Regions from separate parts of the Homo sapiens genome. Here region 2 is linked to region 1. The links come from fine-mapping of genetic effects on gene expression. A gene starts in region 1. The other region holds a variant in brackets. All regions are shown on one strand. Distances are between the middles of the regions. Region 1 holds the start of STXBP6 (syntaxin binding protein 6). Region 2 has its middle 52 kb from the start of LINC02286.

Evidence for each region. PIP is the estimated chance that this variant, and not a neighbour inherited with it, causes the effect. A credible set is the group of variants that fine-mapping cannot tell apart.
Region 2: its variant is the best candidate, but not a certain one, in a credible set for the expression of STXBP6 in testis (GTEx, PIP 0.87).

What each region holds. Positions count from the first base shown.
Region 1 is chr14:25,044,962-25,053,443 of GRCh38, forward strand. It overlaps STXBP6 (syntaxin binding protein 6), which reads right to left and starts at 5,186. Exons shown (of 6, transcript NM_001394410.1): 1 at 4,917-5,186. LOC124903295 (a long non-coding RNA gene) reads left to right here and starts at 5,383. Exons shown (of 2, transcript XR_007064091.1): 1 at 5,383-5,473; 2 at 7,265-7,629.
Region 2 is chr14:25,100,033-25,108,514 of GRCh38, forward strand. No RefSeq gene overlaps it. Among named protein-coding and RNA genes, the nearest start is that of LINC02286, 52 kb to the right of the region's middle. The variant C/A (reference allele first, on the strand shown) is at 4,694.

The DNA of each region.
Region 1 (8,482 bases):
TAGCCACTACAGCTTAAAATGTTCTTCTCTACTCTGAAATAAAAAATAAGTAACCACTTATAGAGTTAATTAATTAATAGCCATACTTAATGAATGTCCCTATATTTTCGGGATATACTAGGTGAAACCATCCCACCCACAATATTAAATCACATATTAAAATTGTGGTTTGTGCTAACTCAGTAATGGAGTCCTAAAAGATACATATATAACCTCAGAAAATTCTGTATTCTGGGAAACGCTGACTTGAATAAATGTAACCAAGTTTTTGTCGTTGATATAGTTAACTATAGTACTTCTCATAGTCTTTGATATAATGATGCCCATGTTGAGAATCTCTACAAGAGGAAAAAAAAATAATAGGCAGTGCTTCCCAAATGGATTTGCCCTTTATAAGAGCAAACTGATTAATACCCACCCCAACAGCACTTTACCCAACATATTCTCGGAACTGCTGAGCTAACTGCTCAGCAATTCAATCAGCTGGACAGCATTGAGTAGAAACCATATTTTCTACCAGAATAAGGAACTAACCTTGCTTTGTTTGAGGATGTCATCAATTGATAGTCACTACACTAACATACTAGGTTACAGAAGAAAAAAAAACTGCACATTAAATGCGTTCATACTTTTTTTTTCTTTTCTTTTTTTTTTTTTTTGAGATGGAGATTCACTCTTGTTGCCCAGGCTGGAGTGCAATGGCACGATCTCGGCTCACTGCAACCTTCGTCTCCCAGATTCAAGCAATTCTCTTGCCTCAGCCTCCCGAGTAGCTGGTATTACAGGTGCCCACCACCACATCCAGCTAATTTGTTTTTGTATTTTTAGTAGAGACAGGTTTTCATCATGTTGGTCAGGCTGCTCTTGAACTCCTGACCTCAGGTGATCCACCCGCCTCAGCCTCCCAAAGCGCTGGGATTACAGGTGTGAGCCACTGCACCTGGCCTAAATGTGTTCATAATTTTTAAGATCCATCTGGGCTTCTGAAATCAGAAAAAGAATGTATCTTAGAAATGAGCTAGTGCAGTATAACTAGTGTTTTAGTTTAAAAGCACCCTCTAGGAACATAGAGAATAATGCTCTAGGAATGGGCCCTGACTCTCTGTGACTCAGTAATAACAGTCCTAATGACCAAAAAGAAATAAAGTGTCATAATGACCGTCTCACAACAGATTTATTAAAGGGAGCAAAGATACCATGTACTGAGAAAAGTGAACAACAGTGATAAGAGGCTGCCCTCAAAGCAGGGGTAACACCCAAAATATAAACATCAGGTTATGGGAAGAAATTTTAAAATAGAAATGTTCCCTACTTATACTAAGTGGGAAAAACCATTGAAATTAACTAATGAATCTTAAGAGTGACAACCAGAAGGCTGTTCCTTCACCAAGTGCTGACTGCTGTCAGGAAGACAGGTTTGGGCCTGAAAGTTTTATCTACTAAAACACTAAGTGTACACTTGAGTTTTTTAAAGGTTTCTGATTTACTGATAGGTTTCTCTAGTGCTAATCATTTTAAAACTAAAACAAAGCACAAATGGACAGCTGAGATAAAGCATGACAGTGAGCTGGGATCCCATTTGGCCTAGCAACACAAGAACTAGTTAAGGCACTGACTGACCTCCTCTTATACCTAATTGATTTGGGCACTACATTATGTAAACTTTATTTCTTCCTTAGGATGTTATTGCAGGAACCCTCCTGACTCAAGCAGGCTCCCACAGCCTCTCTGATGCAAAGCAGTCAAAATTCAAGGCCACAGTCTAGGTCATAGGAAGTCATGGTGAGCTCACAGCACAGGACTATGGCGTGGGGGAAAAGGAAAAGAGCTTAAGATTGGGTTAGGTCCCAATAGTGCTTCATTACAAGCTAGGTTACACAGGACACCACACTAATACTGATCAGCTGCCCCTGAAAGCCAGCCTTCTACCCTCTTAGAGACGAAGAGAGGGTCTCAGCCACTGCCAATGCCACTACCATTCTCCAGAAGGAATGAAAGGGCTTTGCCAGGTCTAACCACCATGGGACATTTGTCGTGGGGTGTACTTCATGCTCCTTCCAGGGCCTGGGTAAGCTGTCCATTCGGAAAAGACACCACTGCAAATTCTTCTTAAACTTGTTCCCTAGGTGATCTATTCTGTCCTCCAACCTTAAGGTTCAAGCTGTCAGAACTGTACGTAACCTCCTTTCCACAAATGTCTGAGGTTTCTCCAAAAAAGGAAATGGGGTAGTTTTTAGATTTTATAAATTATAAAGGTCACCAATCCGGCACTACCCAAGGGTGATCTAAAACCTGAGACTACATATTTTACAGTATGAAAAGAAGGGGGAATCCTACCTCTTTGTAAAATACATCCATTTGAAGAGCAATCAGAATTATTAAACCTAGATAATGGTAAGTGGCACAGGCATTGGAACATAAAATGCCTAAGGAGACTTCCCAACACACCCCCAAAGAAACCTTGTCTCTGTATATGAGCTAGTAAAATAATGGCATTTCACAACAAACGTCATCTCTCTTACTATCTCCCACTCCATAAGTTAGTGATTCTATAGGCATGGTCTGTAGCACCATTAGCATCATCTGGAACTAGTCAGAAATGCTAATTCTTGGGCCTTCACCCTAGACCTAGAGAATCAGAGACTCTGGCAGTATAGCCCAACAGTTTGAGATGTAACAAGCCCTCCAGATGATTCTGATCTGAGAACCACTGCCCTAAGATTAGGGAAGATGCTGCACCTGGGGTGGCTCAGGAGCCTGTGTGAACCCTTTTTAACTGAGTGATAATCTCACCTGTTCTTGCCTTCAATTGATACTGGCTTTTAATCTTCATAGACTGATTTCACAGATTAGGATTTGAGTCCTTAGTTCAAGGTCACTATTAGAGGTCAAGTCAGAGCTCCATTCCAGGATCTGCTGACTTCTTCATCAGCCTTGAGTTTCAAACTAAGGCCTTTCTGACCGTGCCAATTCTGGGGCCTAGGACTCTGAATGTTGATAAGGCCACCCCAGTCATCTCCTAATCTACATCATGCTGCCTTCCTCAGATAAATATGAGGACTGGAGCTCCAATTCTTAAAATCAAAAGAGATGGATTTGAGGATAGAGAAAGAAAAAGGGTAAACAGATGCTTCCAAAGGCCCAAGCAACTAAACCACTTGGTGAGGAGTGGACAGAGAGGAGAGAAGACCTAGATGTCTTGTTATAATTAAGAATTAGCTCATTCAAAACAACTGAGTAAAGAGCACAGAGACAATATCTAAGACCTGAATGGTGCTTTTAAAGTTTTCTTAGCTCTTTTCATTTTCATTATCTCATCTGAGTTTACAACAACCCTGCAATGGAGGGAGGTAAGGCCACGATTATCTCCGTTTGACAGAAGAGAAAACTTAAGTTCAGAGTGACTAATCATTTGTCCATCAGCACTGTCATCAGCTGTAAAGCTGAAACTTGACCTCAAGTCTGTCTGACTCTAGAACTGTGTAGTGTATCCACATTATGTGATTCGCACATCTAGAAATCGGCCCCAAAGCAGACTACCCTCAAGGAAAAAGCAAAGAGAAAAACAGGCAGCAGAATGGTGAGCCCCTAAATCCTGGCACTTGAGCAGTGTGAGGGTGTCCCTTTAAGAACGTAACACACAAACCCAACAGCCAAGGTGTTCAGCCAAAAAAGAAAAAAAGAGAGGCATATTTCTAGCCTGCATAATCATTTCTGGACCGATTCCCACTAGCAGCCTCTGAGACGAACAGCAGCTCACAGCCTCGGCTGAAGCTCCTCCACCCCCAGGGTGGCTCTGACTAGGGCGCAGCTCTGACTAGTGTGCAGGCAAAACCCCAAAACTCAAAACAAGAAGTGAAAAAAGTGGAGCCAGGAAAAATTCGTCGGCATCCTCCACAGCCTTACAATCCGCACAATGCCAGTTCCAGGGTCCTGGGGTCGCCCGGAAGGCAATCTTAGGAGAGGGTGGAATGAGATGGAAGTTCCTGCGGACCTACCGATCCTATTCTCTCCCACCCAGTCCCTAGGGAAGCGTAATAGGAAGGGGAGAAGGTTCGTTATGAAATCCTGGGGCCAGAACCAAGGGCAGATACACCCCGGGGACTTTCTCCTAAAGAACAAGATGTCTTTCCAAATTCTCCACCTGCAGGTCCTGTCCTCTGTGAAGATGAACGGGGTGGGGTGGTGAGGTGGCGGGGTGTTGTAAACCTGAGGAAAGGTTGGAGGGAAAATCAAGCCACCCACCTACTCCAGCCACGTTGCCCGGCGGTGTTGGTGAGGCTCGATGCCGGCGTGCACGGCAAGCGCGAATTCGGAACCTGGCGCCCTTGACCAAGCCTGAGATCGGAAAGGGGGCATCGCCCAGGGCCAGCGCCCTGGGGGCAGGGTGCCGTGCCCGCCAGAAAAGCTCGCCTCAGTTTTGGCAGTAATGATTTTCCTAGAAGATGCCAGAGTTCGCGAAGATCGGAGTGATTCGCGGATTTCTGCGCTCAAGCTAGAGGCGCAGCGACCCCGAGCTCCCCCACACTGGGAGCCTCGGGGCAGCATTCTCGGGGCCCATGCCATCGCGGGGACGGTGCGGAAAAAAAGGCTCCATCCTCAACTTTCTCGGAGGAAATCGCTCCGTTCTGCGGCTTGCCCAATACTGCCCGCACAACGGGTCCCAGGGTTGGAGAGAACCAGGGACACGAGTCCCTCTCTGCGCGCACAAAGCAGCTGCGCCGGGGCGCGCGGCCCCCTCTCCCGCCACCCGCCAACTTGGAAGAATCTCTCTGGGAGCCTGCCTACTCCCCTGGCCTCACAGCCACCCGCCTCGGACGGAGCGCCAGGCGCCCCAACAGCCGTGGCGGCTGCAACCGCATCTCCCGGGCTTGGCCTCCGCCCTGACCGCCTGGCTCCCCTCGCCCCGGTCCTACCGTGCAGCCTGGCTCGCGCCCCTGCCGTGCCAGTGCGCGGCACGCGTCCCAGAGCACGAGGCTCCTCCCCGGGGGGCTGCCCCGCGCGGGGCTCCGGGCTCCGGACAAGGCTTAGCCGGCCCGGGTGCTGGCTCGCCGCCGCTCGCGGCTCCCGCGCCGGCTCCTGCTGCCGCGCGCGAAAAGGGAGGGGTTGGGGGGAAACTCCCGGCAACTCCAACTCCGGGCGCTGGAGCTCCAGCTGCAGCCGCGCGCCCGCCCGCCGCCGAGTGCGAGCGCCTGCGAAGCAAACCTGCCCGCGCGGCCGCCTCTGAGCATGCTCAGTGCCGCCGTGGGCGAGCCCGAGCGCCCTGGCCCGGGGCAAAGAGCAGCGGCTAGGGGCTGGGGGCTGGGGGCCGGGACCCGCGACCCGCCCCAGGCCTCGGAGCGCGGAGGTGGCAGAGGAAGGGAAAGGCCAATGTAGGGGCGGGGGCCCTGAGCCAAAGACCCGGGAGAAACCGATCTGGGTGCAAGAGCCGGTGCGACTTTCACGGCTTGTGGGAAGTTTGTGGGCTAGAAAGGTGGGCTGCTTCTGTGAGCTTCTCTGTGAGACTATATTCGAAAGGACAACCAGGAAACATTTTTTTTTTTCTCTAGGAAAAAACGAATAGACCCAGCCGATGGGTTTTTATCCTGTGCGCTCCTTCCTTTATTCTTACGATAGCAAACTCAAAGATCTAATGGGGCCTGACAGGCACTGTAACTGGGGGAAGGCGAACTGGAGAGAGCTCCGAAGGCAGGGCCGCTTATCTGCTCTCAGGGTCCCTTGCTATCGGGCAAGAATTAGACCTAGTGTTGCTAGATTTTCTGATTTTTCCAGAAATGACGGAGTATATTCATGTACAATATCCTGATTTGTAAAATCTTGATAACAAATTCAATTTTCTCAAAACACCCTGGACTAAACAAAACATATCTGCGTCCCCTCCCTGCTGAACCCCCCAGACAGTGATTTGAGCATTGTGATTCTGCACTCTTTTAGCGAAGTGGTGCTGAGTGCTCACTGTGGTTTGGGAAAGTGCTGGAAAGGATCCAAGATGATTCAGAATATCTTCGAAGTACTACTAGTTACTAGGGGAAATGGGTTTTCCTGACAGTAGAGCGCTACACTTAAATGCTGGAGCGTTCAAGAAGAAAGACGTTACTAATGTAGAAAGCGGTTGTAAGAACTAACTTTTGGGAAACATCATTAGTAAAAGTATCTGTGTGGGGAGTCACTGCAGGGCCGATAACAGTGCCCCGGAAGGCACTTTTGAGCCTGAAGCAATAGGAAAAACCCCTAAACTTACCCTGTCTTTATTTAAAATTTTGTTATTTTTCATCATGCATTTTTGATATTAATTTTGATTTTTTTAAATATTCCATTAAAATATTAACCTTGATTACTGAATTCTTTGGTGAACCTTTAAGTGCTGTGACTCACCTCACCCTAGCCTGGCCCTGTTGGGGTGTTAGATGGTGGTACACAGACCTGCTTGTTTGGAGTGCAAGGGGTAAGCATTAGCATAGTGAAATAGGAAAGAGGGTTTGAGCTGTGGATGGGGGCTCAGGCAGAAGTCCTGACTGTCAGTCTGTGGCTCCTGCACTTAGTTTGTAGACTACGTGGAGATAGCAGAGATGCTGGGGGAGGAGACAATCCGAACTGAATTCTGTGAAGATGGACAGGGCAGCAGACCCAGGAAGATGGTTTGGAGGGGAAGAATGGGAGAAACGGGGATACCTAGGATATCATAAAACTGATACCCTAGGTATCCCCATTTGGTAGCTACAGTTTTATGAAAATCAGAGAAAATTGCCTGAAAAAGTAAGTTTCTTTTGCTCTGCCTATCTCTGTAGAGACATGTCATGGGGCTACCTTAGTGCCAATGAGTAGTGTGCCGGGGTCCTGGTCTTAACCTCAGCCATTTCCCTACCAGGCTTCCATGGGCAAGTGGCTCAACCTCTAAGCTTCACTTTCCTCATCTGTGGAAGGGAAAACAATTCTCATGGCGTTTTTGTGAGAATCCAAAGAAATGTATGTCTAAGGGCTTTGAAAATGTTGAGAGTTCTTACCTACAAGTCATCTATGTAAAATTTGAATTGAAATAAGGGCCTTTTTGCTTGACAAAAGCTCTAAGTAGCAAGCTTCTTTAATTTAGCAAGCCTTTCTAATGTGTTGGGATGATATTTACAAAACTTTGGAATCAGCTTTTGGGTAACTCAATAATTTTGTGAAGTAAGATACTACTGTACTAGCTTCTATTGCCAGTCATCTCCCTCTACTACCTTCCTTTTTTATCTTCACTTGCCTCTTTTTGTTCTCAATATTGCAGATCTAGTCAAGAGGACTCTCTCCCTCTGTACAAAGTGTTCTCTAACTCATGTACCGGTCATCACGGTAGTGTCTGCCTCAAACACCTGGGACCTACCTTAGTGTGGGAGGTGATTCTCCCTGCAGGTAACCTAATTTGTTGCTGCATTCATGGAGAACAAACCACTGCTTATCTATGGGAAGCATTTTAAGCATGCAGACCTCTCAAAGAAAACAAAAACAAAAACAAAAACAAAAAAGACCGTGGATGTTTAAACAAGAAGCCTTCCAGAAGTCATGTAAAGGAGGAAGTACCTAGCCCAGGATCTGTCACATAACAAGTAGTTACAAATATTTGCAGAATAAATAGCAATTTCCATCGTCAAAGTCTTCTGCATCTGTTTCACCTCCCACAGTGCCTAGGATTTTTTTTTTTTTTTAATCACAATAATGGTAAGGTCATAAAGAAGAACAAGAAGAACAGGAACTAAACATTTATGCAGGGAGAGGTTCTGTACTTTAACAAGTGAAATGCTTTGCTTACATTTTAAATTGTATTTTTAATTCTTGTTAGCAAATAATACATGGTATTTAAAAAAAGTTCAGTGCACAAAAGCTCAGTACAAGGAAAAGCAAGTTTCCCTTCTCAAGAAAGACTAATGTTGCCTGTTTCTTGCATATAGTTATAGAAATACCCTATGCACGTGAGAGCAAGCATAGTCATTTTCTTTTCCATAAAATCTAATCACAAAATGATAGAACTGAAAAAGACCTTATGGTTCATCTAGATGTTAAGTTAGAGGCTTTTAAATTGCTATTCTGGGAAAGAAAAGGAAAACCTAAAAGCGATCTTCCCTGTTTCATAAGTAAGCTCATGATTGTAAGGATGCCAGATCACGTGGCAAAACCCTCCATGTGAACATTAATCACATTAAGTGATACAAGGGAAAACTGAGTTCACCTAAAGTTGCCCTGAAACCCATAATGCCCACTGTCGACCTCAACCTAAAACACCCATGGATATAGATGTCTTAGGTTCCCTACGGCTGTTGAAGGAAGTGCTGTCTAAATAACAAATGGAATAAATTGACATGGACACAGAGGGCTTGATCTGGAATTGGGTATTATAATGTGACTATTTTGAACAGCATCTCTTATGCATCATCAATCACAGTATGTCTTCAAGACTAGTAAAGTCTATATTTAAAATTTTTTTTTCTGCTACATGGTGTAGCAAGTA
Region 2 (8,482 bases), 55 kb after region 1:
CTGTGGAGAAATAGGAATGCTTTTACACTGTCGGTGGGAATGTAAATTAGTTCAACCATTGTGGAAGGCAATGTGGCGATTCCTCAAAGACCTAGAGCCAGAAATACCATTTGACCCAGCAATTCCATTACTAGGTATTTACCCAAAGGAATATAAATCATTCTATCATAAAGATAAGTGCACACGTATGTTCACTGCAGCACTATTTACAATAGCAAAGACATGGAATCAACCTAAATGCCCATCAATGGTAGACTGGATAAAGAAAATATGGTACATATATATATCATGGAATACTATGCAGCCATAAAAAGGGATGAGATCATGTCCTTTTGCAGGAACATGGGTAGAGCTGGAGGCCATTATCCTTATCAAACTAATGCAGGAACAGAAAACCAAACACCACATGTTCTCACTTACAAGGTAGAGCTAAATGATGAGCACATATGGACACATAGAGGGGAACAACACACATTGAAGCCTATTGGAAAATGAGGGGTGGGATGGGGGAGAGGATCAGGAAAAAAAACTAATGGATACTAGGCTGAATACCTGGGTGACAAAATAATCTGTACAACAAACCCCTATGACACAAGTTTACCTATATAACGAACATAAACATGTACTCCTGAACTTAAAATAAAATTTAAATTAAAAAAAAATCCTAAAAATAAGAAAATGAAAAACAAGCCACACGTTAGAATAATATGTTGGTTAACACTTACCTGACAAAGCATTGGTATGCAGAATATATAAATAACCCTCACAACACAATAATTAGAAAACAAACACACTGAATTTTAAAATGGGCAAAACTATTTGAATTCACCAAAGGAGACACAGATGGCAAAAAAAAAAATCATAAAATGATGCCCACTATCATTAGTCATTAGGGAAATTTAAATCATAACCACAGCCCATCTATTCCAATGGCTAAAATTTAAAAAATCAGATAATCTGGTTGGGTGCAGTGGCTCACGCCTGTAATCCCAGCACTTTGGGAGGCTGAGGCGGGCAGATCATCTAAGGTCAGGAGTTCAAGACCAGCCTGGCCAACATGGTGAAACTCCACCTCTACTAAAAATACAAAAATTATCCCGGTGTGGTCGTGGGCACCTGTAATCCCAGCTACTTGGGAGGCTGAGGCAGGAGAATCGCTTAGACCCAGGAGGCAGAGGTTGCAGTGAGCCAAGATGGCACCATTGCACTCCAGCCTGGGAGACAAGAGCGAGACTCTGTCTCAAAAAAAAAAAAAAAAAAAAAATCCTATAATTGTAAGTGCTTAGGGAAATCTAAATCATAACAACAGCCCAGCTAGTCAAATGGCTAAGAATTTAAAAACTCAGTAATCCTAAGTGCTTATAGTAATGTGGAGTGAGTGAAACTATCACACATTGCCAATGCAAATGCAGATTTTTACTGCCTGATTGGAAAATGGTTTGGCAGTTTCTTTTAAAGTTATACATACACTTACCATATGACTTCAAAATCTCACCACTAGAAATTTACTGAAAAGAAATGAAAACACATCTTGCACACGAAGACTTGCACACAAATGTTTATATTGCTATTATTCATAATTGCCAAAATTGGCAGACAACGGAAATGTCTACCAACTGGTGCATGCATAAACCATATTGCAGCAAACCTATTCAATGGAATATTATTTAGCATGCAACAACACTGATGAATCTCAAATATATTAAAAGAAAGATGCCCGTTTCAAATGCTACATACTATAGGATTCCATTGAGATGTCCTTCCAGAAAAGGCAAAGCTATTAAGACACAGAGCAGATTGGTAGTTATCAGGCTCTGGCCTTGGAGGAAGAAAACTGATTACAAAGGACACAAAGAAACATTTGGAGTGATAGAAATGTTCTGTTTCTTGTTTGTGGTATTGTAAACACAACGGTATAAATTTGTCAGGATTTATAAAACGGTACACCTAAAAACATCGATTTTGCAATATGTATAATGCATCTCAATATCTTGATTTTTAAAAAGCTAAATGCGGCTTACAGAGGGAAGATAACTTGAGATTGAGTATCTTGTTTCTAAACATAAATTGTTGATGTGTTGGCAAGTACAACTTCTATCTTTAATAAAAGTTGCCGTGGATTCTCTCAACGATGCACACTTAAATGCAGACTAAAAGTAAATATTGATCTTTTGGGATTTATCTTCATTTTTCCTGTCTTCCTTTCCTTGGCTTTTAAAGATCACTTCACTAGAAAGAAAGATAAAGGATATTAGTTGTTATCTCTGGAAGTGGGATCACAGGATTAAAGAATTTTGTTCTTTATATATTTTTGTATTTTTCAATGATACTATGGTTACCATGTATTATTTTTATAATCAGAAAACATATTAAAAGAAGACAGTACCCCAAATTACCTTAAGATTGCTATTTGAAGATATCTGACTTTCCAGTGCTACACACGCAGAGTCACTCTCTTTCTGCCACCTATCTAATTTAGATTGGTTCCTAAGAGACTAACAGATGTTGGTCACCAAGTGGCTTTGCAACCAAAACAGTTACCCCAGGCGAGCCATGGTGAAAGTGATGCCTATTTCTGACTTGCACAAAATATGTCTTCACCCATAATACACACAATCTGTATGAAATATGGCCTGTCTTATGTTCAAATACATATACCTACTTAGACACAAATTTAAAAATTCCCATAAAAAATAAAAATAAATAAATAAATGAGGCCCAGCTAATATCTTCCTGGAACAAGACTCAAGTATTAAGGATTCAGAGAGCTTCACTCTTTCCCTGTTTTGCCTTGAGGGCACCTTTTGCAAGGGATAATGAAGTGTTCTCACTGATTCTCTATTTGGTTTCCAGACTTTGATGTGCTTAAATAAAAATTTTGGTGTTGCCTTTGATCCAGTGAAGCCTAGAGGTGCCCTCCCCTTCAGGGAGGAAGTAAGTGTTAGTTCAGCCTTGTATGACCAACAGCTTGGGTCAACAGCAGAGAGCATGGCACAGATGCTAGAAGCGAAGGCTTTGTTCACAGATAAACCTGAGTCCAAAGCATGTCTCTGTCATTTACTAAATGTGTCATCTTATGTATGCTGTATCTCTTCTTTAAGGCCTCACTTTACTCATTGGTAAAAGTGTTAAAATAATAATAGCTACCTCATAGGGTCATCATGACTCTCGAAAGAAATAATGCAAATAAATTATGCAGTACAGTGCCTGGCATAGATCATGTATTTACTACAAATTCACTGTTTATATATATAAGGAAGGAGGAAGGGGAAAATGTACAGATGTGTTCTACCATCTAGCAATAGAGAGGATGGCAAAGGAGGCCTAGTGTGCCTCTGGGTTAGTTTGCATGGAGTGTGGGGCTCGGAGGAGTGTGAGAAATGCATTTGGTGTGGAGCATGTGATTGGGTAAGAGAGGGCTTTAAAAGCTAGTTAGGGAAGTTAACTAGATATAAAAAGCTGTGGTATGTTTTTGAACACATTGTATTGCAAAATAGCAAAACGTAAGTGTAGGGTTTCCTTTCAGAGACTATGAAATTTCTTTTAAACATTACCGTGTACCAGGGACCATACCACGCCAGGGTAAGAATTATTCTACTCATTTTAAAGATGGTGATATTGTGGCCCAGTAAGATAAAAATTAGCCCCTGTTCACCTTTTAAATCCACCTCATCTATTAAATGGGGATTAAATCAGTGTGTGTGAGGGTAACACCAGAGCCAGCCTGTGAAAAGCACCTTCCACAGAATTGATGTTCAACAAGCACTAATGCCCCTTAATTCTGTGTTAGCTTTAAAGACTGGGCCTCTGTCCTATTCTCATGACCAAGCCCCAGGTTTGTCCAGTTCCACTCACCTCTTTGGTCCTGCCATGCTTGTGTCCCTGTGTGGATAACCTGCTCAGGATTTGATCATTTTCAGCACTGAGCAGCTTTCTCTAAACCCCACTTCATGGTTGTGACTGTGCTCCTCCTTCTAAGCTTTGTGGACAGGAACTGCCGGCCTCTGCTGGCCTGCCTGTCTGCTTTCATCTCTAAATGCTGCCATGCTTCAGCCTTTTGCTAGGACCCACAGTCTGATGGTTCTTTGACATGATTTCCTGCCGGGAATATCACCCATTGTCCAGTATGTACATGCATCTTTTCAAGTTGCTTTTCCAACAGTGGAGTTTGTTAAAAGTAGAGTTGCCTGGGCCCTATTCTAGACTAACTAATTTAGAAGTCCCCAAGATGTGGCCTGGAAATCTGTATTTTAAGAATGTTCCCGAGGTCGCTGGTAAGATGGCCGAATCAACACAGAAGGCGAGTGATTTCCGCATTTCCAACTGAGGTACCCGGCTCATCTCAATGGGACTGGTGAGACAGTGGGTGCAGCCCACAGAGGGCGGGCAGAAGCAGGGTGGGGCGTTGCCTTACCCAGAAAGTGCAAGGGGTCAGGAAACTCCCTCCACTAGCCAAGGGAGGCGTGAGGGTCTGTGCTATGAGGAATGATGCACTCCAGCCCAGATACTATGCTTTTCCCACAGTCTTCACAACCCGCAGACCAGGAGATTCCCTCGGGTGCCTACACCACTGGTGCCCTGGGTTTCAAGTACAAAACTGGGTGGATGTTTGTGCAGACACCAAGCTAGCTGCAGGAGTTTTTTTTTAATATCCCAGTAGCACCTGGAATGCCAACGAGAAAGAACCGGTCAC[C/A]CCCCTGGAAAGGAGGCTGAAGCTGGGAGCCAAGTGGTCTAGCTCAGCAGATCCCAACCTCATGGAGCCCAGCAAGCTAAGATCCACAGGCTTGAAATTCTGGCTGCCAGCACAGCTGTCTGGATTTGACCTGGGACACTCCAGCTTATTGAGGGGAGGGGCATCCGCCATTACTGAGGCTTGAGTAGACCATTTCCCCTCACAGTGTAACAAAGGCTATTGGGAAGTTTGAACCCGGAAGAGCACACCACAGCTCCACAAAGCCACTGTAGCCAGACTTCCTCTCTAAATTTCTCCTTTCTGGGCAGGGCATCTCTGAAAAAAGGCAGCAGCTCCAGTCAGGGGCTTATAGACAAAACTCCCATCTCCCTCAGAGCACCGGGGGGAAGGGGCGTCTGTGGGTGCAGCTTCAGCAAACTTAAACATCCCTGCCTGCTGGCTATGAAGAGAGCAGAGGATCTCCTAGCACAGCTCTCAAGCTCTGCTAAGGGACAGACTGCCGGCTCAAGTGGGTGTCTGACCCCCATGCCTCCTGGCTGGGAGACACCTCCCAGCAGGGGCCAACAGACACCTCATATGGGTGAGCTCTGCCTGGCATCTGGTGGGTGCCCCTCTGGGACGAAGCTTCCAGAGGAAGGAACAGGCAGCAATCTTTGTTGTTCTGCAGCCTCTGCTGGTGATACCCAGGCAAATAGGGTCTGGAAGGGACCTCCAGCAAACTCTACCAGACCTGCAGCAGAGGGGCCAGACTAATAAAGAAGAAAAGAGAGAAGAATCAAATAGACACAATAAAAAATGATAAAGGGGCTATCACCACTGATCCCACAGAAATATGAACTACCATCTGAGAATACCATAAACACTTCTACGCAAATAAACTAGAAAATCTAGAAGAAATGGATAAATTCCTGGATACCTACACCCTCCCAAGACTAAATCAGGAAGAAGTCAAATCCCTGAATAGACCAATAACATGTTCTGAAATTGAGGCAGTAATTAATAGCCTACCAACCAAAAAAAAGCCCAGGACCAGATGGATTCACAGCCGAATTCTACCAGGGGTACAAAGAGGAGCTGGTACCATTCCTCCTGAAACTATTCCAAACAATTTGAAAAGAGAGACTCCTCCCTAACTCATTTTATGAGGCCAGCATCATCCCGATACCAAAACCTGGCAGAGACATAATAAAAAAAGAAAATTTCAGGCCAATATCCCTGATGACATCGATGAGAAAAATCCTTAATAAAATACTGGCAAACCGAATCCAGCAGCACATCAAAAAGCTTATCCACCATGATCAAGTCAGTTTCATCCCTGGGATGCACACGCAAATTCAACATAAGCAAATTGATAAACATAATCCGTCACATAAACACAACCAATGATAAAAACCACATGATCATCTCAATAGATGCAGAAAAGGCCTTTGATAAAATTCAACACCCCTTCATGCTAAAAACTCTCAATAAACTAGGTGTTGATGGAATGGATCTCAAAATAATAAGAGCTATTTATGACAAACCACAGCCAATATCATACTGAATGGGCAAAAGCTGGAAGTATTCCCTTTGAAAACCAACACAGGACAAGGATGCCCTCTCTCACCACTACTATTGAACATAGTATTGGAAGTTCTGGGCAGGGCATTCAGGCAAGAGAAAGAAACAAAGGTATTCAAAGATGAAGAGAGGAAGTCAAATTGTCTGTTTGTAGATGACATGATTGTATATTTAGAGAACCCCATCATCTCAGCCCAAAATCTCCTTCAGCTGTTAAACAACTTCAGCAAAGTCTCGGGATAAAAATCAATGTGCAAAAATCACAAGCATTCCTATACACCAATAATAGACAAACAGAGAACCAAATCATGAGTGAACTCTCATTCACAATTGCTACAAAGAGAGTAAAATACCTAGGAATACAACTTACAAGGGATGTGAAGGACTTCTTCAAGGAGAGCTACAAACCACTGCTCAGTGAAATAACAGAGGACACAAACAAATGGAAAAACATTCCATGCTCATGGATAGGAAGAATCAATATCATGAAAATGGCCATACTGCCCAAAGTAATTTATAGATTCAATGCTAACCCCATCAAGCTACCATTGACTTTTTTCACAGAATAAGAAAAAACTACTTTAATTTTCATATGGAACCAAAAAACAGCCTGCATAGCAAAGAACAATCCTAAGCAAAAAGAATAAAGCTGGAGGCATCATGCTACCTGACTTCAAACTATGCTACGAGGCTATGGTAACCAAAAGAGCATGGTACTGGTACCAAAACAGATATATAGACCAATGGAACAGAATGAAGGCCTCAGAAATAAAACCACACATCTACAACCATCTGATCTTTGACAAACCTGAGAAAAACAAGCAATGGGGAAAGAATCCCCTATTTAATAAATGGTGTTGGGAAAACTGGCTAGCCATATGCAGAAAACTGAAACTGGACCCCTTCCTTAAACCTTATACAAAAATTAACTCAAGATGGATTAAAGACATAAATGTAACATTTAAAACTGTAAAAACTCTAGAAGAAAACCTAGGCAATACCATTCAGGATATAGGCATGGGCAAAGACTTCATGACTAAAACACCAAAAGCAATGACAACAAAAGCCAAAATTGACTAATGGGATCTAATTAAACTAAACAGCTTCTGCACACAAAAGAAACTATCATCAATGTGAACAGGCAACCTACAGTTTGGGAGAAAATTTTTGCAATCCATCCGACAAAAGGCTGATATCCAGAATCTACAAAGTACTTAAATAAATTTACAAGAAAAAAACAACCCCATCAAAAAGTGGGCGAAGGATCTGAACAGACACTTCCCCAAAAAAGACATTTATGTGGCCAACAAACATATGAAAAAAAGCTCATCATCACTGGTCATTAGAGAAATGCAAATCAAAACCACAGTGAGATACCGTCTCATGCCAGTTAGAATGGTGATCATTAAAAAGTCAGGAAACAACAGATGCTGAAGAGGATGTGGAGAAATAGGAACATTTTTACACTGTTAGTGGGAGTGTAAGTTAGTTCTACCACTGTGGAAGACAATGTGTTGGCGATTCTGCAAAGGTCTAGAACCAGAAATACCATTTGACCCAGCAATCCCATTACTGGGTATGTATCTAAAGGATTATAAATCATTCTCCTATAAAGACACATGCACATGTATATTTATTGAAGCACTATTCACAATAGCAAAGGCTTGGAACCCAAATGCCCATCAATGATAGACTGGATAAAGAAAATGTGGCACATATACACCATGGATACTATGCAGCCATACAAAAGAATGACTTCATGTCCTTTGCAGGGTCATGGATGAAGCTGAAAGCCATCATTCTCAGCAAACTAACACAGGAACAGAAAATCAAACACTGCATGTTTTCAGTCATAAGTGGGAGGTGAACAATGAGAACTCATGGACACAGGGAGGGGAACATCACACACTGGGGCCTGTCAGGGGTGGGGGGCTAGGGGAGGGGTAGCATTAGGAGAAATACCTTATGTAGATGATGGGTCGATGGGTGCAACAAACCACCATGGCATGTGTATACCTATGTAACAAACCTGCATGTTCTGCACATGTATCCCAGAAATTAAAGTATTTAAAAAAAAAAAAGAATGTTCCCCCAGGTGGATTCTGATACAGCTGTTTGGCAGGCTGGCCTCTGTGAAATAATGATGCAAATGTTTAGATCACATGGCCTCGATGGCCTATTGCAACTCAGTGAGTTCATTGTTGGCTCACCGTTGGGTTGGGTTCACAA